Homo sapiens: one gene and its partners. The protein of the gene in region 1 purifies or fractionates together with the protein of each later gene. This does not show direct contact. Each region holds a gene or a part of one and is shown in the gene's direction. Other genes may lie near its edges. The genes, in order: CBR4, CRAT, GATB, LARS2, TARS2, PRORP and NDUFAF5.

What was found.
Region 2: the proteins of CBR4 (region 1) and CRAT purify together in Homo sapiens (affinity purification with mass spectrometry; one large-scale study listed by BioGRID and IntAct). This does not show direct contact.
Region 3: the proteins of CBR4 (region 1) and GATB purify together in Homo sapiens (affinity purification with mass spectrometry; one large-scale study listed by BioGRID and IntAct). This does not show direct contact.
Region 4: the proteins of CBR4 (region 1) and LARS2 purify together in Homo sapiens (affinity purification with mass spectrometry; one large-scale study listed by BioGRID and IntAct). This does not show direct contact.
Region 5: the proteins of CBR4 (region 1) and TARS2 purify together in Homo sapiens (affinity purification with mass spectrometry; one large-scale study listed by BioGRID and IntAct). This does not show direct contact.
Region 6: the proteins of CBR4 (region 1) and PRORP purify together in Homo sapiens (affinity purification with mass spectrometry; one large-scale study listed by BioGRID and IntAct). This does not show direct contact.
Region 7: the proteins of CBR4 (region 1) and NDUFAF5 purify together in Homo sapiens (affinity purification with mass spectrometry; one large-scale study listed by BioGRID and IntAct). This does not show direct contact.

The regions. Positions count from the first base shown.
Region 1 is NC_000004.12:169,000,256-169,003,755, reverse strand, and holds part of CBR4 (3-oxoacyl-[acyl-carrier-protein] reductase), read left to right. Parts: intron 1-1,550; coding exon 1,551-1,685; intron 1,686-3,500. UniProt on the Homo sapiens protein: Component of the heterotetramer complex KAR (3-ketoacyl-[acyl carrier protein] reductase or 3-ketoacyl-[ACP] reductase) that forms part of the mitochondrial fatty acid synthase (mtFAS).
Region 2 is NC_000009.12:129,100,794-129,104,293, reverse strand, and holds part of CRAT (carnitine O-acetyltransferase), read left to right. Parts: coding exon 1-106; intron 107-1,227; coding exon 1,228-1,281; intron 1,282-1,728; coding exon 1,729-1,894; intron 1,895-2,236; coding exon 2,237-2,411; intron 2,412-3,500. UniProt on the Homo sapiens protein: Catalyzes the reversible transfer of acyl groups from carnitine to coenzyme A (CoA) and regulates the acyl-CoA/CoA ratio. Also plays a crucial role in the transport of fatty acids for beta-oxidation.
Region 3 is NC_000004.12:151,716,008-151,719,507, reverse strand, and holds part of GATB (glutamyl-tRNA(Gln) amidotransferase subunit B, mitochondrial isoform 1 precursor), read left to right. Parts: coding exon 1-83; intron 84-2,433; coding exon 2,434-2,632; intron 2,633-3,376; coding exon 3,377-3,499; intron 3,500-3,500. UniProt on the Homo sapiens protein: Allows the formation of correctly charged Gln-tRNA(Gln) through the transamidation of misacylated Glu-tRNA(Gln) in the mitochondria. The reaction takes place in the presence of glutamine and ATP through an activated gamma-phospho-Glu-tRNA(Gln).
Region 4 is NC_000003.12:45,521,076-45,524,575, forward strand, and holds part of LARS2 (leucine--tRNA ligase, mitochondrial), read left to right. Parts: intron 1-2,921; coding exon 2,922-3,033; intron 3,034-3,500.
Region 5 is NC_000001.11:150,500,919-150,504,418, forward strand, and holds part of TARS2 (threonine--tRNA ligase, mitochondrial), read left to right. Parts: intron 1-3,416; coding exon 3,417-3,500. UniProt on the Homo sapiens protein: Catalyzes the attachment of threonine to tRNA(Thr) in a two-step reaction: threonine is first activated by ATP to form Thr-AMP and then transferred to the acceptor end of tRNA(Thr). Also edits incorrectly charged tRNA(Thr) via its editing domain.
Region 6 is NC_000014.9:35,178,052-35,181,551, forward strand, and holds part of PRORP (mitochondrial ribonuclease P catalytic subunit isoform 1 precursor), read left to right. Parts: intron 1-2,618; coding exon 2,619-2,726; intron 2,727-3,500.
Region 7 is NC_000020.11:13,795,028-13,798,527, forward strand, and holds part of NDUFAF5 (arginine-hydroxylase NDUFAF5, mitochondrial), read left to right. Parts: intron 1-3,433; coding exon 3,434-3,473; intron 3,474-3,500. UniProt on the Homo sapiens protein: Arginine hydroxylase that mediates hydroxylation of 'Arg-111' of NDUFS7 and is involved in the assembly of mitochondrial NADH:ubiquinone oxidoreductase complex (complex I, MT-ND1) at early stages. May also have methyltransferase activity.

The DNA.
Region 1 (3,500 bases):
TTCCATGGTGTATATGTGCCACATTTTCTTAATCCAGTCTGTCATTGTTGCACATTTGATTTGGTTCCAAGTCTTAGAATAAGACAAAATTTGCCACATTGATTGACTCTTCATTTCGTGAGAGATTTCTCTGCAGCATGTGATGCTGTTTGATAGCATTTTATGCAAGTAGATCTTTAAAAATTGGAGCCACTCCTCTCAATCCCTGCTATTGCTTTATCAACTAAGTTTATAGGATATTCTAAATCCTTTGTCATTTCTTTCAACAGTATTCACATCTTCACAAGGAAGAGATTCCATCTTGAGAAACAACTTTGTTTATCCATACATAAGAAGCAACTCCTCACCCATTTGTTTTATCATAAGATTGCAGCAATTCAGTCACATCTTCAGGCTCCACTTGTAATTCTGCTCCACTGAAGTCTTGAACCCCACAAAGTCATCCATGAGGGTTAAAATAACTTCTTTCAAACTTCTGTTAATGTTGGTATTTTGACCTGCCATGAATCACAAATGTTCTGAATGGCATATAGAACGGTGAATCCTTTCCAGAAGGCTTTTAATTTACTTTGCCCAGATTCCTAAGAGGAATTACTATTTATGACTGCTATAGACTTATAAAATGTTTCTTAAATAAGACTTGAAAGTCAGAATTATCCCTTGATCCATGAGCTGAAGAAAGGATATTGTGTTAACAGGCACGAAAACAACATTAATCTCCTTGTACATATCCATCAGAGCTCTTTGGTGACCAGATGCATTGTCAGTGAGCAGTAATATTTTGTTTGTGGCACCCCAACAGCAGTAAACATCAAGAATCACTGATCACAGATCATTATAACAGATGTAATAATAATGAAAAAATTTAAGATGGTATGAAAATTACCAAAATGTGACAAAGAGACACAGAGTGAGCACTGCTCACAGTGAGCCATGGTGTTGGAAAAGTGCTAATAGAATTGCTTGTTGCAAGGTTGCTACAAGCCTTCAATTTGTTAAAAAAAAAAAAAAAAAATGCAATATCTGCAAAGCACAATAAAGCAGAACAATAAAATGAGTTATGCATGTAATTCAATTTTAGTGAGATTTAGCTTCAAATGAACTAGTTTTTAGGGTGAAAACGAGAGCTTTCTGCCTTATGTCTGTGTTGTAGAATCATAAAATTAGTCAGCTTTTGTCTGACTTTTTCTGGCTTTAACCTCTACCTGCTGGAAGCCTTTATAAATACCACAGAATTTTCATCATATCTGACCTACTCAGAGATTAGAGTGCATCCCCTTCACGTAGTGAATCAATTCGCAAGCACCTGCATTGGCAGTTTTGTATCAGCTGCTTTCAGATGCTATTTTCTGTATGTATCTGGAGCAGACTTGGACTCTTAAATCTTCCGTAAATGACTGATGACAATGGTTAGAATTTCTAATTTTAACAAAGGACAAGGTGAAGTGGGTTTTACCTTTTTGTTTACTATAAATTATCTAAATTTTCAAGTAACCCCATTAATTGAATTTAATACGCTTTTTTTTTTTTTTTTTTTTTTTTTGTCCTAGGAAGCATTGTTGGCTTAAAAGGCAACTCTGGCCAGTCCGTTTACAGTGCCAGTAAAGGAGGATTAGTTGGATTTTCACGTGCTCTTGCTAAAGAGGTAGCAAGAAAGAAAATTAGAGTGAATGTAGTTGCACCAGGTTAGTGAAAACTTTATTAAAATAACTTGATTATGATTATTGTTTTATAGGGAAGCCATTATTTGGAACATTAGTAATTGACATCTGGGTAGAATAGTTTGTAAAATGATTGTGAAAAGAATCAAATAATGAACTGGGGGACTCAAAAAAATTTTTTGTACCTCATATTCTATATAAAGTCTATGTGTTAGCCTGTTTGCATTGCTCTAAAGGACTGTCTGAGGTAATTCATAAAAAAAAGAGGCTTATTTGGCTCTCGGGCCTGCAGGCTGTACAAGCATGACACCAACATCTGCTCAGCTTCTGGTGAGGCCCAGGAAACTTTTTTTCAGTCATGGCGGAAGGTAAAGAGGTAGCAGCCAAGTCATATGGGGATAGCAGGAGCAAGAGAGAGAGGAGGTGGCAGGCTCTAAACAACCAGCTCTGGCATGAACTAACAGTGAGAACTCATTATTTACCATGTGGAGGGCACCAAGCTATTCATGAGGAATCCGCCTCCATGACCCAAACACCTCCCGCTAGGCCCACCTCCAACATTGGGAATCACATTTCAACATGAGATTTGGAGGGGACAGACATCCAAACCATAAGAGTCTTTATTTTTAAATTTTGCACTAGTGGAATAACTTAAGGTGGAGAGGGTCTTAGAAATAATTTTTTCCAGTCATTTTTGTAGATTAGAAAACTGTACCTGGGATTCAGAGTGACTTGCCTAAGGTTACACAGCTAGTTTATGGAAGAACTGTTACTAAAAGCTTTGTCTTTTGATTTCCACCTAATGGGAGCTTAAAAATAATGTCCTACCAGGTATGGTAGCTCATGTGGGAGGCTGAGGCAGGAGTATTGTGAGGCCAGGAGTTCCAGATCAGCCTGAGCAACATAGCAAGATGCTGTCTGTACCGAAAAAAAAAAAAAAAAATTAGCTGGGTGTGGTGGTGCACACCTATAGTCCCAGCTATTTGGGAGGCTGAAGCAGGAGGATTGCTGGAGTCCAGGAGTTGGAGGTTGCAGTGAGCTATGATCATGCCATTGTACTCCAGCCTAGGTGACAGAGCGAGACCCTGTTGAGACCCTGTCTCTATAAAAATTAAAAAAAAAATTCTTTTTAGATTTTCTTTATATCATTACACAAACTTTAGATAGTTTTGTCCTTTTACTACTATGGTCTGTCTAAACTATCTGGAACCTCCCATTTTCCTAATTTTTACTTTTCCATTATTTGCCTTTCGCCAGGGTACTAGTTGATAAAATTGCCTGGATTAATGAAGAGGGTAATAAAAAGGTGCTAAAACTCAAAAATATATGATCACTAATTAGCTGGTGTGCTAGAAATTTTGATTAGGTATTTACTTGGTTTTTGAGTAACACAAGTGTTTTTATCTACCTCTGCCAGTTAGCCATGGAATCTTTGTCCTAGCCTACTGTAGGTACTTAAGAATTAATCACCTATATAAGAAAAGGCAGTTTATTTTGGTTTGCTGGTCCTTTGTAAGAAAGAGAGGGCTGAAGTAGACCTTTGCTACCTTTCCCTTTCCGGTCACTAATGGCTCCAGCTTGGACCTTACAGTTGGTGTTTTCTTTGGCACTGAAGTTGAGCCAGCAGGTATCAGGGATTTATCAAAATATCCTATTAACCCTTTTGGTCTATAGTGTGTCTTTATTTCAATTCTTTTCTTTTCTTTTTTTTTTTTCTCATAGCAACTAGCTACATTCAGACATTCTAAATCTATGAATATTTGATAAGTGACTGTGGTTCAGATACATCTATTTGCTGGGAGTAGGGAGAGAAAGAAAAAGAAAAAACAATCCAGAAGC
Region 2 (3,500 bases), on another chromosome or scaffold:
GGCTCAAGACCGCCTACCTCCAGTACCGCCAGCCTGTGGTCATCTACTCGAGCCCAGGCGTGATGCTACCCAAGCAGGACTTCGTGGACCTGCAGGGTCAGCTCCGGTGAGTGGCTGGGGTTTGGGGGCCAGGAGGCAGCCGGGCCCCTCGAGTTCACTTCGCCCAGCCGCTTGGAGGGGCCCCGACCCTGTTTATCTTTCTGCCCCACAAGCAGCCTTATGAAGTAGGGAGCATCCTCCCTATTTTACAAATGGGGAAATTGAGGCTCGGAGCAGGGAAGGGAGCTGCCCAAGACCCCATTCAGGAAGCAGGGTCTCTCCAGCTCTAAAGCCTCATGGCTGTTAACCACCACATCTTCGCAGAGGCCCCATCCTCCTCCATACCTGAGGCTTCTCCCCGACCCCAGTTTTAGCACTTCACCTCTCCTTTCCACTCTTCTCAGCTAGCCACAGGGGTGACCTCTGTACACAGTCCTCTTTTCCACATTCAGCCAGGTCACCTGCCCCAGCCCCTATTCCAGTCCTACCAGAGATAAAAATACCAGTGACAAGGATCTCCTGCCCAAGGACCAGCCACTGGCTGCCACCACCTGCTTCTCTTAAAGGGACCAGGGTACCCTGGGAAGGGCCGGGGTTCAGGCCCAGGAACTCCAGCCACTGGTCCCCATGGTGGGATCCAGGGGCGGCCCCAAGCATTGAGGGTGGTTGCCATGGGCCAGACAGCCCTGGGAGGAAGGCGGCCTGGGGGACACAGAGGCCCAGAGTGGGGAAGGGACCTAGTGGAGGGAACACCGGAGCCACTGCTCTCCCATCACACCACCCCAGGGGCCCGGGGCCTCCAGAACCGATGCTTCAGAGCAGATGACACCCCCTCCAGATTCTAGGCTGAGGTTCAGGAGCTCAGGCCCTTTGTGGGTAGACCCAGCCCACTGACCCCTAACCAAGCCACACTCCAGCTGCAGGGGGCCAGCACCCAAGTCCTACTAGGCCCTTGGCCACCAGCACTTCCCCGAGCCCTCCCGACCATGCTCCCTCTAGAGGTTATGAAGAAGCACACACAGGCTGGCAAGCTGGGACTCGCAGGCCCCTCCCTTGCGCTCCCAGGCTTTCTGGAAGCGGTGAGAGAGGCTGGAAGACTAGACCTCCCGCTCCCCAAGCAGGTGTCCCTAGCCCGGGGCCTCCCTCAGGGTGTCCACGCAGCTTCTAATCTCTAATCAATCTTTCCAGATTTGCTGCCAAACTCATTGAGGGTGTGTTGGATTTCAAGGTCATGATTGACAAGTGAGCATCCCCACCCCTGCCCAGCCCCACACCTGCCCAGGCCTGCTTAATTACCACAGCCACCTCTGACCCCAGCCCTGGCCCGGCATGCCAGCTTGGGCCCTGGGCCCTGCTCCAGCTGCTGGAATCTCCTCTTGGTGGGTGACCCTGTCCCATCCCAACTAAAGAGGACCCCAGAGTTTTATTCGCTGCTTCATCTCCCCTGTGACAAACTGAAGCCCAGAGAGGGGAAAGGAGGGAGTTTCTAGATGACTTCTGAACAGGGCCCATCTGGGGCAGAAAGCGAGCCCCCTGCCCACAGCACAGCCCTGAGGTGTCCTGCTCATCTGGGAGTGGGAGCAGGGACACTGTGTGAGCCCCCAGCAGTACCTAGCAGGTCCCTGTCTACCCTGCCCTCCTCCCCATTCACTTGCCCAGTGGTGGCCTCACTGCCCCTCTACCCCATAGCGAGACCCTGCCCGTGGAGTACCTGGGGGGGAAGCCACTGTGCATGAACCAGTACTATCAGATCTTGTCCTCCTGCCGAGTGCCGGGCCCCAAGCAGGACACAGTCAGCAACTTCAGCAAGACCAAGAAGCCTCCCACGCACATCACCGTGGTACACAACTACCAGGTGGGTGGCCCCCACCCACACCTACAAGCCCCGGCCCTGCTGCAGGAGTACAGCCGGACGGCCGCAGTCGGCTTCCCCACTGGGGTTCCCCAGCACACGTGCCCACGTGCCCCAGGAATGGGCGCCCCTGGCTTCTCCATTGGGGGCCCAGGGAGGCCAGGAGGGGCCGTGGGCCTGCCCAGCCCAGAAGGGTGATCCAAGGACCTCCTCCCCCTCTCACCCTTGGCCTGACTCCATCCCCTCCAAGGCCAAGGCCAGGAGGAGGCAGGTGTGGGGAGGTGGCTGCTCTCAGCCTGAGGTCCCCACTCAGCTCCCTCCTCTTACCTGCCTGTGCCCCAACAGTTTTTTGAGCTGGATGTGTACCACAGTGACGGGACACCCCTCACTGCGGATCAGATCTTTGTGCAGCTGGAGAAGATCTGGAACTCATCCCTACAGACCAACAAGGAGCCTGTGGGCATCCTCACCTCCAACCACCGCAACTCCTGGGCCAAGGCATACAACACCCTCATCAAAGGTGCCTCTTGGGGGCCGTGCTGGGGCTGCACACCCAGGCCTCTTCCCCTGTTGGGGACCAGCCTCAACTCCACCTGTAGGGTACCCGAAGTCTGCTGGCAACAAAGGAATGAGAAGAGACAGGTTAAGAGTTCATGAAGGTGGGAGCCAGGGGCCAGTTGCAAAATGGAGGCTGCAAAAGGCGCAGAGTTCTGGTCTCCACACTATTGAGTGCAGTCACTTAGCTCTAAGAAGCACATGTTCAGGGCGAAACAGTGAAAGGGAGGCAGTGCCTCATAGGAGGCATAATCTATAGCAATAGCAGTTTAAATGAATCTCCTTTGTGCTCAAACAGCGTGTCTTTAACTTATCGGAGAGTAGCTGGTGGGAGCGGGCTTAACTAGGAGCCTGCACATCTGTCCACTTCCCAGTGTTTCAAAGGAGTGTCTTTCTCCTTGAACACAGTGTTTACAGATAGGAGAGCGGGTCTCGCTCTGAGCATGGGAACATGATGGCAATTAGTAGGCTTTCCTCCTCCGTGGCCTCTTCTGGCTTTCCACAACTTATTGTCCCCTATTTTTATGGCCAGTTTATACAGGCACCCCACAAGTCCTTTTCCCAACATTCCCCCGGCATGCTGGGCCCCGCACAGCCATGGGCAGACATGTTTCCCGCTGCATCCTCTCAACGTGGAGCAGGCAATGTGGGCCCCATGTCCTAGTTGAGGACACCTCATGGTTAGGGTAGTTTCTCTCAGCTAAATAGCAAGTTAGGATTAGAGTCCAAGTCCTCTGGCTGAGAAGCCCACCCGCCTCCACACCCCCTGTGCCCCCAAGTACCAGCAGTCCTCCAAAGCATGTCTTGCTCAGGGGCATTGACCCCAAAGTCAGACCACCTGTGTGGGTTCCCCGGCTGCCACACCAGCTCCCATGTGACCCCTGGGCTTCGGTTTCCTGTGTCTAAAGTGGGCCAGGTGTTGGGCCCTGCCTCGAGGAGTGCTGTGGGCCTGCAGGGTCCTGTTGAGTTCGAAGCTCTGAACCCACACCCTGCACTTGGTGAATGCCCTGGAGGGCCGGCGAGGTGGGGGGTCTCCTCATCCCAGAGAGGTACA
Region 3 (3,500 bases), about 17 Mb from region 1:
TGATGACAGGCCTGGCTCTGAACTGCCACATAAACAAGAAGTCCTTGTTTGACAGGAAGCACTACTTCTATGCAGACCTCCCTGTAAGTACACTTTGTGATCCACCCCACTGCAAGTTCTCAGAGCTGGGCCAGCCCTGCTGTGGGGGGTCGGAGCAAGGGAAAGGGGCTGTGCCTCTCATGTTTTCAGCCAGCACTGTGTCCATCCCAGCAGGAAGTTCGGCCCAGCCCTGATGCAGGCAGGTGCCCCTGATGGTTACTAGATCGGATGCAGTTGTCCTGATTGCTGACTTCTTGCTTACCTCATGCTTCTGGTGGCTCGCTCATAATTGCACAGGGAGTAGAAGCCAGTGTTTGCAGGCTCAGCCTGGCCGTGGTATTTGGTGCTAATTGCCTGTTAGTACAAAAGCTAAGGCTCTGGCTGATGCAACAGTAAATGCATACTGTAGTTCTGTCAGCAGAGCGAGAGCGAATCGCTTTTAAGTTGAAGTTCCCAATAATAGGGCTGTCTCCTTTGGAGACATTTCTGTCATCTCACAAGGAGCAAGTAAGTGGACAATAGTAAGCGGAAACATGAACCAGAAATCTGGACCAAGAACAGTAAACTGTTGGTCCAGTTACTTGGCTGAGCAGTAAACTCCATATTGACCCGCTTTTTTCTGAAAATTAAAAGGTTTTTTTCTTTAAGCCACACCATGTGAGTGAGAGCCAATTTTTCATACTATTGAACAGGAACAAAACTGAAATGTTGAATGGGTTTCCCAAAATAATGTTTTGTTTGGTCTGATTCAGAAAAACAACAGTGATGATGTTGCTTCACCTCTTTCTCCTTGAACTGAAGATTGGGGCGAGCTGTTTTTTAGTGGGTGAGGGCACGAGTAGAATTAAATAAAAAATACAAGTAAGACCTGCGTTCTCCAGTGGCTGCTGCTTTTCCCCTCTGGCCTCCAGCCTCTCAGCAAGTCTACTGTTTGGTAGGGCGGAAAGAATTAAACCGCCTTTCTTTATCTTTTAAGAGTGACAGACAGTTTGGTTGAGGTGGGAGATTTAGTAATAATATGACTAAAATGAGATGTTTTGGTCATCTGTGGCTTTCTGGTCTTTCTGGCCCAGATAGTTCAAATAATCCAGAGTTTCATGGGACATACTCATATAATAAAGCATTTGTTGTTTTTTCTGAAATTCAGATTTAACTGGGTGTCCTATATTTTATCCAACAACCCTACCCAGAGCTTAGTTTTACAAATTGAGACTTCCCGTCTCAGCATAGAAAACGGGTTAGCCTTTTGCAGGATTCTCAAAGTGTGGTCCCCAGGGCACTGACATCATCATCTCCTGGGAACTGGTAAGAAATATAAATCTTCAGGCCCCACCCTCGACCTACTGAATCGGAAACCTTTGAGGTCGGGCCAAGCAGTCTGTCTTTTGACAAGCACAGTAGTATTTCTGATGCAGTTAAAGTTCTTAAACTGGGGGCCTGCCAAGTGGTGAAAGACACGGATTTTGGAGCCTGACCATCTGAATTCAGACATTGACATTGATGCTCACTAGCTCTGTATGTGGCTGTGGGCAAGGTCTTAATCCCTCCACGCCTTGTTCCTCCTTCCTAGGGTTGTTGTGGAATTAACTGAGGGAACACAGTGAGAGCAGCACCTGGGACCTAGGAAGTGCCACAGATGCCTTTGCTTTTATTCTCTGTTCTTCTCCAATTCTCCTCATTGACCTGCTGTCTCTTTAGTGCGTATTGGTGCCTCTGTGCGTTTGCAAGTAATTCTTCCTTTCCACTTAGAAGCAGGTGAGGGATCCTTGCAGGATCCATCAGTGCTTTAGTACCATGTGCCTTCCATTAATGGAGGGGGAGTGTCACAGCATTTTCTGACTGGAGGAGCTAGGGAGGTTGGGTCAGGGAGGGCAGCTGCCATGATTGATTCCTTTAAAAAGCAGAAACAAAACAAGCTTAAACACACACTAGCAACTGCTGTTGGCCGTGTGGAGAGTAGATGGCAAAATGCTTAGCCAGCATTCCAAATAAGGAGGGTCTGCCAGGAGCCTGGTAATGAGATGCAGAGTTTAGGCTAATGAGCTGGATGGAAACAATAAATTCTTTTCTTAGGGGTCCCTGACAATGACATTATTGTTATTCCCCAATACAGCACTTTAATGAGGGCAATGGGATGAATTCGTGTTGTTTATTGCATCGTTATCAGGGGTGGAGGATTTGGGGAGGGTGAAGGGGTGATGGCAGGGGCAGAAGAGACCAGGCTCAATGATGGCTGCAATGCAGCAACTAATTTTTTTCTCCTTTTCCTTTTTTTCTTGTTGTTTTTGCTTTAAGTAGGCCTGTCGTTGTGTGACATTGTAAAAGGGATAGTAAACTGGATCCCAGCTTTTATGTGTGGACCAGTGACTATGTTTACCCTATGTTTGTGTGCAGGCAGGCTACCAAATTACCCAGCAGAGGCTCCCAATTGCTGTGAATGGGAGCTTGATATATGGCGTCTGTGCAGGGAAGAAGCAGAGTCAGGTGATCCCCAAGACGGTGAGGATCAAGCAGATCCAGTTGGAGCAAGACAGTGGCAAAAGCCTCCACGACAACCTGAGGTCTCAGACGCTCATTGATTTGAACAGGGCAGGTAGGCTTGGAGTGTTTTCATTATTTCTCCTTCCTACTTCAGTTCTTGGATAGCAGGGCCCTCTTTTCACCGCTAGAGTTTTCTTGAACAAATTGAGAAAGCAGTCACAGGAGCCTGATAGATGGAGACTAAAATATCAGCATTGGGATTGGCATAGCTGACTAGCGAACATGGCTTGAACTGTAATTATTAGGCTTGCTAATAACTCACCCTGAAGTTAGACAAACCTATCCACCTAGTCACAGACCCAGCAGCTGGATATTTTAAGCAGTCATTAAAAGAAGTGAAACATTTAAAAATCAAAACGTGGAGCCTAGGTGCCTACACGTGTAATGCTAGTGACTCAGGAGGCTGTGGGAGGATCACTGTACGCAGAGTTTGAGATCAGGCTGGGCAACATAGCGAGACCTACTTGCCAAAAAATTAACACCTAGGTGTGGTGCCATACACCTGTATCCCCAGCTATTCAGGAGGCTGAGGTGGGAGGATCACTTGAGCTCAAAAGTTCAGGGCTGCAGTGAGCTATGATCATGCCACTGCATTCCAGCCTGGGCAGCAGAGCAAGATGACGCCTCTTTAAAAAAAAAAAAAAAAAAAAGGTGGGAGGGAAGAGAAATGATTGAGAGGCTAGAACCACTCTGAGAGTCCTTCAGTAAGGCAGGGTTTTCCTGAAACTTAGGCCTAATTTTTCTGTTGGTGAAATTGGAGAGCTGCAGTGAGGCTGACTCTGCCCCTCTTTGGTAGGAGTGGGCCTTCTGGAGGTGGTCCTGGAGCCCGACATGTCCTGTGGAGAAGAGGCGGCAACAGCTGTCAGGGAGCTGCAGCTGATCCTTCAAGCCCTGGGGACCAGCCAGGCGAACATGGCAGG
Region 4 (3,500 bases), on another chromosome or scaffold:
AGGCGGATCACGAGGTCAGGAGATCAAGACCATCCTGGCTAACACAGTGAAACCCCATCTCTACTAAAAAATACAAAAAATTAGCCAGGCGTGGTGGCAGGCACCAGTAGTCCCAGCTACTCAGGAGGCTGAGGCAGGAGAATGGTGTGAACCCAGGTGGCGGAGCATGCAGTGAGCCAAGATCACGCCACTGCACTTCAGCCTGGGCGACAAAGCAAGACTCCGCCTCAAAAACAAAGTAAAAAAATAAAATAATTAGCCTGGCATGGTGGCATACAGCTGTAGCTGTAGCTACTCGGGAAGCTGAGGCGAGAGGATCGCTTGAACCCATCCTGGGCAACAGAGCAGGAGACTCTGTCTCTAAAAATAAAATTAAAAGGGTAATTTTTAAAAAGTAAAATAAAGATAAAAAAGAACAATGGAAGAAATTTCAAATTTGACTACATAAAACTTGACATTTTCAGTATGTTAAAAAAATTTATAACATGTCAGACAGAAGGTTAATATCCTTGTAAAGCACTCTTACATATTAATATGAAAATACCTAACCAAAAATGGTCAAAGCATATGAAAAGATAATAACTCATAGAAAATGTTATAGAAATAGCCAATACATTTGTGGAGAAAAAAAAGTCTGCCTCTCTAATTATCATGAAAGGCAAATTTAAAACAAGATGCTTTTGTTTTTGTTTTTGTTTTTTTTTAAATACCTGTCAAATTTGCTGAGAATACTTTAACGTAACTATTCAGGGCCAGGCACAGTGGCTCATGCCTGTAATTCCAGCACTTTGGGAGGCCGAGGCAGCAGGATCGATTGAGCTCAGGAGTTTGAGACCAGCCTGGGCAACATAACAAGACTTCATCTGTAAAAAATTTAAAAATTAGCCAAGTGTGGTGGCATGCACCTGTAGTTCTAGCTACTCAGGAGGCTGAGGCGGGAGGATCCCTTGAGCCCAGGAATTTGAGGTTGCAGTGAGCTGTTTGGTGCCACTGTACTCTAGCCTGGGTGACAAAGCGAGACTCTCTCTCAAAAAAATAAAAATAAAGGCATAATTATTCCCCATGCTATTGCAAAGATGGCAGAATAGACTTTTACACGCCAGTGATAGGTGTGGTTGGTGTAACCTTGCCAGGAAGCACTTCGGCTATCAGGTTGATTGTGTTATATCCTCTGATCCAGGAGTGTTCACTGCAGATAATTTATAATCACAGAGACTCGGAACCCCAGTGTCCTCTGATGGGGGAATTGTGAAATGACTTATGTCATATCAATAAGAAAGGAATGTGCCACCACCATTAACCTCATGTCTTGAAGAATACTTAATATCAGAAACTGTTTATGATATAATGTTAAGTAAAAACACATGACACAAGGCCAGGCACAGTGGCTCACGCCTGTAATCCCAGCACTGCGGGAGGTCAAGGCAGATAGATCGCTTGAGGTCAGGAGTTCAACACCAACCTGCTCAACATGGTGAAACCCTGTCTCTACTAAAAATACAAAAAATCAGCCAGGGTGTGGTGGTGCACACCTGTGCACCTGTAGTCCCAGGCACTCAGGAGGCTGAGGCAGGAGGATTGCTTAAACCTGTAGGCAGAGGTTGCAGTGAGCTGAGATCACACCACTGCACTCCAGCCTGGGCAACAGAGAGAGACTCTGTCTCAAAAAAAAAAGATACAAAAGTGTTCATATGAGCTGGGTGCAGTGGTTCACACATGTAATCCTAGCATTTTGGGAGGCCAGGGCAGGCAGATGGCTTGAGCCCAGGATTTCGAGACCAGCCTGAGCAATATAGTGAGATACCCCATCTCTATTTAAAAAAAAAATTAATTTTTAAAATTAAAAAAAAGGAAGTGTTCATATGGCAAGAATACCAATCCTGAAAATGTTACATGTGTAATAAGCATTTATATACACATTTTTGCATTTTTGGAGACAAGGATAAAATATACCTTTTTTTCTAGGTTGTATAATTATGAGTAGTTTTTCATTTCCTGTATATTCTGTGCTGAGTGTGTGTTAGTTTTTTAATCAGAAAAAATAAAGCAAGACACTGAAATGAAACTGTAATGAATTTCTGTCTTTCCATTCCGGAATTTGGGAAGTCCTTAATAATAACACACAGAGCTAAACACAACTATGTTTGCCGGAATTGACCAAAGGTATTTCAGAGAATAGGGGTCCCTAAGTAGGGTATAGAGGCCCCCCTGCCCTAGGTGTTTCACAGTTTAACACCTTTGAGCAGGTCTCAGTGCATTTCTCTGTGGACCTGCAGCACAGAGGAAACCTAGCAGAGTGGGTAAGAGTTTGGCTACAGTGTGCCTGGGGGCAGATTGCCCTCCCTTGCTGATCCTTAGCTGCTTCATCTGTCCAATGGGGTAAGAATACCACCCTCAAAGAGTGGTGAGGACTAAATAAGTTAACATCATGTATTTGTTGTTGCTGCTGCTGGAGCTTTTTTTTTTTTTTAAAGATAGGGTCTCACTGTTGCCCAAGCTTCAGTGCAGTGGTGCAGTCATAGCTCACTGCAGCCTTGACCTCCTGGTCTTAAGTGATCCTCCCACTTCAGCCTCCTAAGTAACTGGGACTATAGGTGTGTGCAACTGTGCCTGGCTAATTTTTTTTTATTTTTTAATTTTTCATAGAGATGAGGTCTCACTATAGTGCCCAGGCTGGTCTCAAATTCTTGGCCTCCCAAAGTAGTGGGAGTATAAGTGTCAGCTACCACACCTGGCTTGCTGTAGTTTATCTCAGTGCTATCATTAAGTAGGGGAAGTTCATTGTCCCAAGCAGAAATGGATGGCAAAGGGGGTTTCTTCCTACCAGCTTGTGTCTCTGGACTTCAGATACATTAATGGTCTTTCTTACCCGTGCTTATTTTTACACCTCAGTCTTCTTACTTTTTTTTCCTCTTCCTTAGCAAGCCTCTCAGAGCGTCATTCTCCACAGCCCCGAGTTTGAGGATGCTTTGTGTGCCCTGATGGTAATGGCTGCTCCACTGGCCCCTCATGTAACCTCAGAGATCTGGGCAGGTACGTGGCAGAGTCCTTTTTTGACCAGTTACTACTAACTAGAATTTGTCGAAGCCTCTTTTTGAACATCATTCGGGACTCAGATGTCCTCAGATATAGGGTCCAACATTTGGCATCTATACTCAGCAACCTCTCTGTCCTGTACTCTGAATGGTAGTACTTCATCCACATGGTCACCCCTACCAAAAGGAAAGACACTTCCCTGCTTTGAATAATGTGCCCAGACTAATGTGGGTGTTGATGTTACCATCTTAATCCCTTCTCGTGACTCAGCCCCCCAGTATCCACATATTATGACCTGCGTGGTCTTTTTAAGATAAAAACTCATGTTTAATACCACTGTACAGGTGGAAATTAAGTTATAGGTCTAAACTTACACTGTAATTCAGCACTCTTCACCAATTATTCCTAATCTAGGCATCAAAGCAGGCCTGACTGCCTGCTTGAATTTCAGCCCCTAGAACCCT
Region 5 (3,500 bases), on another chromosome or scaffold:
AGGTTTAAGGTAGGATTGAGAAGCCTTCATAGAAGGGATCACCATTGCCATTGTATCCAGGGTGGAAGGAAAGGCTGAAGGTAGATGCAAGGAAGTTTGTAGGCATGGTAACAGGAAGTTGAGGCTCTTCCCATCCCATGGTATCAATTATCTGAATTCTTCATGAGGCAGGATCATTTGCTGAAATGAGAGTGGAGAAGAGGAGAGTTGTCAGTGAGGGGGCTGAAGATATGAAGAAAAGGCTGTGTGCAGTGGCCCCCTCTTGTAATCCCAGCACTTAGGGAGGCTGAGCTGAGATGATCACTTGAATCCAGGAGTTTGATACCAGCCTGGGCAACATAGTAACAGGGCATCATAATAAGACCTCGTCTCTACAAAAAAAAATTTTTTTTTTTTTTTTTTTTTTTTTTTTTTATTGAGACTATGTCTCGCTCTGCTGCCCAGGCTGGAGTGCAGTGGCTCGATCTCGGCTCACTGCAAGCTCCGCCTCCTGGATTCACGCCATTCTCCTGTCTCAGCCTCCCGAGTAGCTGGGACTATAGGCAGGCACCCATCACCATCACCATGCCTGGCTAATTTTTTTCTTTTTTTTTTTTTTTAGTAGATATGGGGTTTCACCGTGTTAGCCAGGATGGTCTCGATCTGCTGACCTCATGATCTGCCCGCCTTGGCCTACCAAAGTGCTGGGATTACAGGCATGAGCCACTGCGCCCGACCGTCTCTACAAAAAATTTAAAACAAATTTTAAAATTAGCTGGATGTGATGGTGGGCACCTGTAGTCCCAGCTACTCAAGAGGCTGAGGTGGGAGGATCACTTGAGCCCAGGATTTTGAGGCTGCATGAGCTATGATCAAGGCACCACACTCCAGCTTGGGTAACAGAACAAAACCCTGTCTCAATAAAATAAATAAATAAAAAGATAGAGAAAGGAAATTACTCAAGAACTGTTATATAGCTAAAATCTTTTTTTTGTTTGTTTTGTTTTATTTATTTATTTTTATATATTTTTTTGAGATCAAATTTTGCTCTGTCGCCCAGGTTGGAGTGCAGTGGCGCAATCTCGGCTCACTGCAACCTCTGCCTGCCAGGTTCAAGCGATTCTCCTGCCCCAGCCTCCCGAGTAGCTGGGATTACAGGCATGTACCACCACGCCCGGCTAATTTTTGTATTTTTAGTAGAGATGGGATTTCACCATGTTGGCCAGGCTGGTCTTGAACTCCCAACCTCAGGTGATCTGCTCGCCTTGGCTTCCCAAAGTGGTGGGATTATTACAGGCATGAGCCATCTTGCCCAGCGTTTTTTTCGTTTTTGTTTTTTTCCCCGAGACAGACTCTTGCTCTGTTGCCAGACTGAAGTGCACTGGCGGATCTTGGCTCACTGCAACCTCCACCTCCCAGGTTCAAGCGATTCTCTTGCCTCAGCCTCCCGAGTATCTGGGACAGGTGTGCACCACCACGCCCAGCTAATTTTTTTTTTTTTTTTTTTGAGGCGGAGTTTTACTCTGTCGCCAGGCTGGAGTGGAGTGGCACAATCTCGGCTCACCACAACCTCCACCTCCTGGGTTCAAGCGATTCTCCTGCCTCAGCCTCCCCAGTAGCTGGGATTACAGGCACCCGCTACCACACCAGCTAATTTTTGTATTCCCTTTTTTAGTAGACGGCATTTCACCGTGTTGGCCAGGCTGGTCTCGAACTCCTGACCTCAGGTGGTCCACCTACCTCGGCCTCCCAAAGTGCTGGGATTACAGGAGTGGGCCATGTGCCTTGCCTGGCTAAAATCTTTTGAGTACTCAAAGTTGCTGTTGACTGTGTTGGGGTCTTTTATTCAGGTAACATGTGTATTCTCATTTTTATGTCCCAAGTGTTTATTCCAGCATATGGTATTTATTTACCTGCTTCACTAAGTAGTTAGTAAATTAAAATATTAACAGTAATGAAAGTGTGTCTTCTGATTTATTTCAGCAATAACAGTAGGCAAATAAAATATCTTTATTACTAAGAAAAAAATTGAGAGAGGTTAAACAATGTGCTTAAGGTTACAGATATAACAGTCATAAAGTGTGTATTATGTTGAATCAGTCTAATAAGTTGCTGGCTCAGATACTGCTATAAAAAGAGAGAGCAAAAAACTGGAACATCCCTGAGGAGAACAGAGCATAGAGCTTATTAGGGCAATCCAAAGGATTGCTGGCAGCAGACAGGGACCAGCTGAATCTCGAAATACTGACTTCCATGGTGGCATCAATCTCTGCATTTGCATCTGTGTGGTTTGTGACATATTGGGCAGCACTGAGCAGTTCTCTTGCAGGGCCAAAGATGTAGGAGGCTAAGGTGCAGAAGAACAATGAATGGTACAAAGGGAACTAGGGAAAATGGTACAGCTTCATGGGATAAGAAACAAAGGTGGGAGGGGCCTGAGGATGGGAGAGAAAAAGAGGAGTTAAAGAACCGGTGGGTTGAAGTGCCATTAATAGGAATAATTGTCATGGCCGGGTGTGGTGGCTCACACCCATAATCCCAGCACTTTGGGAGGCCGAAGTGGGCAGATCACTTGAGATCAGGAGTTTGAGACCAGCCTTGCCAACATGGTGAAACCCCATCCCTACTGAAAAAAAAAAATACACATATGTGTGTGTGTGTGTGTGTGTGTGTGTGTGTGTATATATATGTGTGTGTGTGTGTGTATGTGTGTATATATATGTGTGTGTATATATGTGTGTGTATATATGTGTGTATATATGTGTGTATATATGTGTGTATATATGTGTATATATATGTGTGTGTATATATACACACACACACACACACATATACACACACATACATATATATATGTTAGCTGGGCGTGGTGGCATGTACCTGTAGTCCCAGCTACTCAGGAGGCTGAGGCAGGAGAGTCGCTTGAACCCGGGAGGCGGAGGCTGCAGTGAGCTGAAATCGTGCCACTGCACTCCTGTCAGGGTGACAGAGTGAGACTCTGTCTCAAAAAAAAAAAAAAAAAAGGAATAATTCTCAGAGCTGGCTGACCAAGAGACAGTAATCAGAGTAGGGTGTCTGATGGACAGTTTCAGAGGTACAGCCATTGGGGGAGATGACAGGATAAAGGGTGTAGCCATAGATGGGTGGTGGTGAAGATCTCTGAGATGAGGAGCTCAAGGAATTGAGAGGCCAGGGTGTGGACATCAGGTAATATTATAACACCATTATTAGATGGAGAGAGCTGCTGAGAACTACTGCCAGAGTGAGTTGAGTAGAGTGAACTGGAGGGGTAGCGTATGATAGAGCTAGGTGACATGATGAAGGTAGTAGCCCGGGATGAGGGTAGGTTAAAGGGTGGGATGGCACAGGTAATGGAGGATAGTGGTTCTGGATAGTGCTTCTGGCTTATCTCGTGCCTTCCCATCTGTTTCCTGTAGATTGACGTGCACCTCCACGATGCCCTGGGCCGGCCACATCAGTGTGGGACAATTCAGCTTGACTTCCAACTGCCCCTGAGATTT
Region 6 (3,500 bases), on another chromosome or scaffold:
GTTGAGTGAGTTTCTTAATCCTGAGTTCTAGTTTGATTGCACTGTGGTCTGAGAGACAGTTTGTTATAATTTCTGTTCTTTTACATTTGCTGAGGAGTGCTTTACTTCCAACTATGTGGTCAATTTTGGAATAAATGCGATGTGGTGCTGAGAAGAATGTAAATTCTGTTGATTTGGGGTGGAGAGTTCTGTAGATGTCTATTAGGTCCGCTTGATGCCGAGCTGAGTTCAATTCCTGGATATCCTTGTTAACTTCTGTCTCGTTGATCTGTGTAATGTTGACAGTGGAGTGTTAAAGTCTCCCATTATTATTGTGTGGGTGTCTAAGTCTCTTTGTAAGTCTCTGAGGACTTGCTTTATGAATCTGGGTGCTCCTGTATTGGGTGCATATATATTTAGGATAGTTAGCTCTTCTTGTTGAATTGATCCCTTTACCATTATGTAATGGCCTTCTTTGTCTCTTTTGATCTTTGTTGGTTTAATGTCTGTTTTATCAGAGACTAGGATTGCAACCTCTGCCTTTTTTTGTTTTCCATTTGCTTGGTAGATCTTCCTCCATCCTTTTATTTTGAGCCTATGTGTGTCTCTGCATGTGAGATGGGTCTCCTGAATACAGCAACACTGATGGATCTTGACTCTTTATCCAGTTTGCCAGACTGTGTCTTTTAATTGGAGCATTTAGCCCATTTACATTTAAGGTTAATATTATGTGTGAATTTGATCATGTCATTGTGATGTTAGCTGGTTATTTTGCTCATTAGTTGATGCAGTTTCTTCCTAGCATCGATGGTCTTTACGTTTTGGCATGTTTTTGCAGTGGCTGGTACCGGTTGTATCTTTCCACGTTTAGTGCTTCCTTCAGAAGCTCTTTTAGGTCAGGCCTGGTGGTGACAAAATCTCTCAGGATTTGCTTGTCTGTAAAGCATTTTATTTCTCCTCCACTTATGAAGCTTAGTTTGGCTGGATAGGAAATTCTGGGTTGAGAATTCTTTTCTTTAAGAATGTTGAATATTGGCCCCCACTCTCTTCTGGCTTGTAGAGTTTCTGCCTAGAGATCCGCTGTTAGTCTGATGGGCTTCCCTTTCTGGGGAACCTGACCTTTCTCTCTAGCTGCCCTTAACATTTTTTCCTTCATTTCAACTTTAGTGAATCTGACAATTATGTATCTTGGAGTTGCTCTTCTTGAGGAGTATCTTTGTGGCATTCTCTGTATTTCCTGAATTTGAATGGTGGCCTGCCTGCTAGGTTGGGGAAGTTCTCCTGGATAATATCCTGCAGTGTTTTCCAACTTGGTTCCATTCTCCCTGTCACTTTCAGGTACACCAATCAGACATAGATTTGGTCTTTTCATATAGTCCCATATTTCTTGGAGGCTTTGTTCATTTCTTTTTCCTCTTTTTTCTCTAAACTTCTCATCTTGCTTCATTTCATTCATTTCATCTTCCATCACTGATACCCTTTCTTCCAGTTGATCGAGTCGGTTACTGAAGCTTGTGCATTCGTCACGTAGTTCTCGTGCCATGGTTGTCAGCTCCATCAGGTCATTTAAGGACTTCTCTACACTGGTTATTCTAGTTAGCCATTCATCTAATCTTTTTTAAAGGTTTTTAGCTTCTTTGCAATGGGTTCGAACTTCCTTCTTCAGCTTAGAGAAGTTTGATCGTCTGAAGCCTTCTTCTCTCAACTCATCAAAGTCATCGCAAAGCTTTGTTCTGTTGCTGGCGAGGAGCTGCGTTCCTTTGGAGGGGGAGAGGTGCTCTGATTTTTAGAATTTTCAGCTTCTCTGCTCTGTTTTTTCCCCATCTTTATGGTTTTATCTACCTTTGGTCTTTGATGATGTTGACAGACAGATGGGGTTTTGGTGTGGAAGTCCTTTCTGTTTGTTAATTTTCCTTCTGACAGTCAGGACCCTCAGCTGCAGGTCTGCTGGAGTTTGCTGGAGGTCCACTCCAGACCCTGTTTGCCTGGGTATCAGCAGCGGAGGCTGCAGAACAGCGAATATTGCTGAACAGCAAATATTGCTGCCTGATCGTTCCTCTAGAAGCTTCGTCTCAGGGGTACCCGGCCGTGTGAGGTGTCAGTCTGCCCCTACTTGGGCTACTCGGGGGTCAGGGACCCACTTGAGGAGGCAGTCTGTCCATTCTCAGATCTCAAACTCCGTGCTGGGAGAACCACTGCTCTCTTCAAAGCTCAGTTGAAAGTGCAGAAATCACCCATCTTCCGCATCGCTCACGCTGGGAGCCGTGGACTGGAGCTGTTCCTATTCGGCCATCTTGGAACCGCCAGTTCATTCTTATCATAACTATCATGTGGGTTAATTTAGAAGTCTAGATAGGCCAGCTGCAGATCAAATGAAATTACATATGAAAGTGCTTTGTGCAGTATAAAGCACTATGAGATTATAGAGTGTATTGGATAATTGTATGCAGTTGCATCCATTAGACTGGCTTTTTCAGATTTCATTTGTAGAGTATCTGTGTGTGTGTGTGTGTGTGTGTGTATTTTTAAGGGATGAATATTTTGAATTATCAAAACAATAATAAAGGTCACTGCAGTGTGTTTATAATAAAGTCCTTACTGAGTTCTTATTAATGTTTTGTCTGACATTTCTTTATTAGGAACTTAAGAGATTTGAGAACTTCATAAAATCTCGTCCTCCTTTTGATGTTGTCATTGATGGTCTCAATGTTGCCAAAATGTTTCCTAAAGTTCGTGAATCTCAACTTGTAAGTATAAGTTTTACTTTGTTATTCCACATCTCTAGAAATATTTATTATACCCATTTATGACCTTCTTGGGGCTCTTAGCTCCTCAGTTTTTCTTCCTCTAAAACTAAGGTCTTCAGGGTGCCACAGTGACCAACTGCATGCTCCCCTAAGATTTACTATTTTCATCACTAATAAGTCGCTCTTCAAGGCTGGGAGAAAACAATTAAAAGTGAGGAATTAAAAGAAAGATTGCAATACAGGGCCAGATTTTCCCGTTTCGTGTAACCTTTAGCTAACCTTCTCCTGGGTCTCTGCTTTCTCTTTGGGGTCGCTCTGTCATTTCCCTTTGGGTCATATCCTTATATTTGAAAATTATCAATATACAATATCAAGAGATATTAATCACTCATTACTCACATTTGTTTTTTCCAAACATAGTATGTTCATAAATTAACCTAAGCAGTTTTTTTTTCTATATGGTAGCCATTTGTTAATTTATAAATGCCCTACTAGTTTCTAATAAGACTATCATTTTTCATAGCTGCAATTAACAGTTACTTTAATCTCTATTTTGTAGATTAAAAAATTGAGGCTAATTTTGTATAGTAAATCTATAGAAAACAGTCATAACATCAAAATTAGATTGTAGAGAGCTCCTGGGTTTCAGACTTGTGGCTCTTATCATTGGCAATCTATAGCCATTCATCTGTAATTAAACTATTTCTTAAAAATTGCTGCCGCTGGCTGGGCACAGTGGCTCATGCCTGTAATCCCCAGCACTTTGGGAGGCCA
Region 7 (3,500 bases), on another chromosome or scaffold:
CACGCCTGTAATGCTAGCACTTTGGGAGGCCGAGGCGAGTGAATCTCTTGAGGTCAGGAGTTTGAAACCAGCCTTGCCAACATGTTGAAACCCTGTCTTTACTAAAAATACAAAAAAGGTAGCTGGGCGTGGTGGCATGCATGAACTTCCTAAAGTTCATCTGTGATAGAAGGTTTTTCTCCCCAGTGCATCTTAATATTTTGGAATTGCTCTTGTTGGGAGCAGGAGTTTGAAAGAGCATATTGGCTCCTGTATTCAAATGTTAGAGCAATTCCAAAATAATAAGTTACATTGGGGAGAAAACCCTTCTATCACAGATGAGTTTAGCAAGTTGGGGGAAAAAAAAGTTGAGGCACTATATCATATTATCTCCACCAGAGAGCATAGAATATATTCTTTCAAACTCCTGCTCCCAACAATCATAACTCATTCTGGACAAATTCTGGACAAACTCATTCTGGACAAACTCAAACTAGGACAGCTAGTTTTCCTTTAGCCTTAATTCTTCTGGCCAGGTACAGTGGCTCTCACCAGCAATCCCAACACTTTGGGAGGCTGCAGTAACAGGACTGCTTGAACCCAGGAGTTCGAGACCAGCCTGGGCAACATAATGAAATGCCATCTCTACAAAAAATTAAAAAATTAGCTGGGCAAGGTGGCGCATGCCTGTAGTCCCAGCTACTTGGGAGGCTGAGGCAGGAGGATCACTTGAGCCTGGTAAGTTGAGGCTGCAGTGAGCCATGATCATGCCACTGCACTCTAGCGTGGGTGACAAAGCAAGACCCTGTCTCAAAATAATAATAATTCTGTACCAGAATGTAGTTCTCAAGATTACTCTTTTCCCTTTATGTTTTCTACTATCTTCCTCCACATATGTTACACAAACATGTAATGCAAGTATATATCAAATAGGTTATAGGATACAAGGCACTGAGCCAGATTTTTGGGTGAATACAAAAATGAATTAGGGATCCTGTCCTCAAATAACTCAGTCTAACAGAAAAAATATCTTTGTGGTATCTTCTTTCTCCTGTCTTATAGTCAAATAGATTTTCTTTCAGAAGTTCAGCAGGCTCTCCACGTCCAGTTCAACTCTTTCGATAGCTGTTTTTAGGGTGACCAGTCATCAAGGTGTGCCCAGGACTTTGCCACTTTTGGCCTGAAAGTCTTATGTTCTGGGAAAGCTGGTCACCCTTGATGTTTTCTTTCGTGAGTGTGTAATTCCTTCCCTGGTTTTTTAGATGTGCTGAACAAAGTTAGAAAACTACTCACATTCTGTCATGAAATGAAAAATATGCAGAGCCTTGGTCTATAAAGAACCCTGGGCAGGGAGTCAGAACCTGAGTTTTTATGTTAGCTCATCTGCTTGCTATTTGCAGGTGACTAATTCTGTTGCTTTCTGTTTTCCCATAAGTATGATAGAGTTTATAGTATGAGCTCCTTAGTTTTTAAAGTATCTAATACTTGTCGAAAAGCATTAGGAAAGATAAACATGAGCTTAACACAGTATGGTTTGAAATGGACATTCAGTTCTGTCCTGGAACTCAGCATAAGGGGAGGCAGTTATACCAGAAAAGTGTGACCGTACTCTAAGGAGACTGGGAATATGACTTTCGCTGTCACGCATGACTACACTCTAGGTGAGAGTAGGGTCAAAAGAAAATTCAAGGCCCGGGCACGGTGGCTCACGCCTATAATCCCAGCCCTTTGGGAGGCCGAGGCAGGCAGATCACTTGAGGCCAGGAGTTCAAGACCAACCTGGGCTACGTGGTGAAACCCTGTCTTTACTAAAAATACAAAAATTAGCTGCATGTCATGGCGCATGCCTGTAATTCCAGCTGCTCGAGAGGCTGAGGCATGAGAATTACTTGAACCTGGGAGGCAGAGGTTGCAGTGAGCCAAGATCGCGCCACTGCACTCCAGCCTGGGCAACAGCAAGACTCTGTCTCAAAAAAGGAAAAAATTTAAGAGATTAAGTTTCAGTGTATACAGCTCTGGTTTTTGTTTGTTTTTATCACCTTAAAAAATGGATGTACCACACACCTACTAGAATGGCCAAAATCCAGGACACTGACAACACTAAATGCGACAAGGATGTGGAGTTCATTATTGGTGGGAATGCGAAATGGTACAGGCACTTTGCAAGATAGGTTGGTTGTTTCCTACAAAACTAAACATACTCTTAGCGTACGATCCAGCGATTGCATGCTCCTTGGTGTTTACCCAAAGGAGATGAAAACTTACGTCCACGCAAAAACCTGCACACAAATGTTTATAGTAGCCTTATTCATAATTGCCAAAATTTGGAAGCAGCCAAGATGTCCTTCAGTAGGTGAATGGATAAACTTTGTTGTATCCAAACAACAGAATATTATTCAGCACTAAAAAGAAACTGTCAAGCCATTAAAATATTTGGAGGAAACTTAAATGCGTATTACTGAATGACAGAAGCTAATCTGAAAAGGCTACATAGTGTGTAATTCCAACTGTGACAATCTGGAAAAAGCAAACTCTGGAGACAGTGAAAAAGATTGGTGATTGCCAGGGGTTGTGTAGGGGAAGGATGAATAGGTGGAGCACAGAGGATTTTTAGGGCAGTAAAGCTACTCTATGATACTATTATAATATTGGATATATGACATTACACGTTTATCCAAACCCTTAGAATATACAACACCAAAAGTGAACCTTAATGTAAACTATGGACTTGGGGGATAATCACTTATCAGTATAGCTTCATCAGTTGTAACAAATATACACTCTGGAGATATTGATAATGGGGGAGGCTGTGCATGTGTGGGAATAGGAGTATGTAAAAAAATCTCTGGGTTTTCCTCTTAATTTTGCTGTAAACCTAAAACTGCTCCAAAAATAATTAAAAATAAAGTCTTAAAAATTGATTTTTTAAAAAATGGGATATTATTGGAAAACTCACAGATTCAAACTTTTGATGAGTTACACTGTTTGCCTTGAAAAAATTTAGATCTGCAGATAATTTTTTTCTAAGAAAGTCTGACTTAGAATAATACTATATTTCTGTAGCTTAATTGATTTAACTGATGAGCTTCTTTGAGCATTTTTACTACTTTTTGCAAATAAGGTCTCAGAATAGCACCGTTTAGATAAAATGCCTAAGTAGGAATGACTTTTACATAATTCAGTGATGAATAATTAGAAAATAATCATATCAGATTCTTTCAGTTACGCAAAGTGATATATTGACATGGGGAATTTTCTGGTGTGACACAAGGCAGGTTTTCCTCTAGGAATATTTATAATTTTAAAACCTGTATGAAAACGATCAGTGGATTTGGATATGCAGTTTTAAACTTCAAAATTAACACCTTTTTATGGGTTATCATTAACCTGGTGATAATTTTACTAATTAATTGTGCCAGTTAAGCTAAAACAAATCTGTATTCTCATATTTTAGTTTGCATTGGGTGAATGACCTTCCTAGAGCACTTGAGCAGGTAAGAAAACTTATGTTCATTCAACTA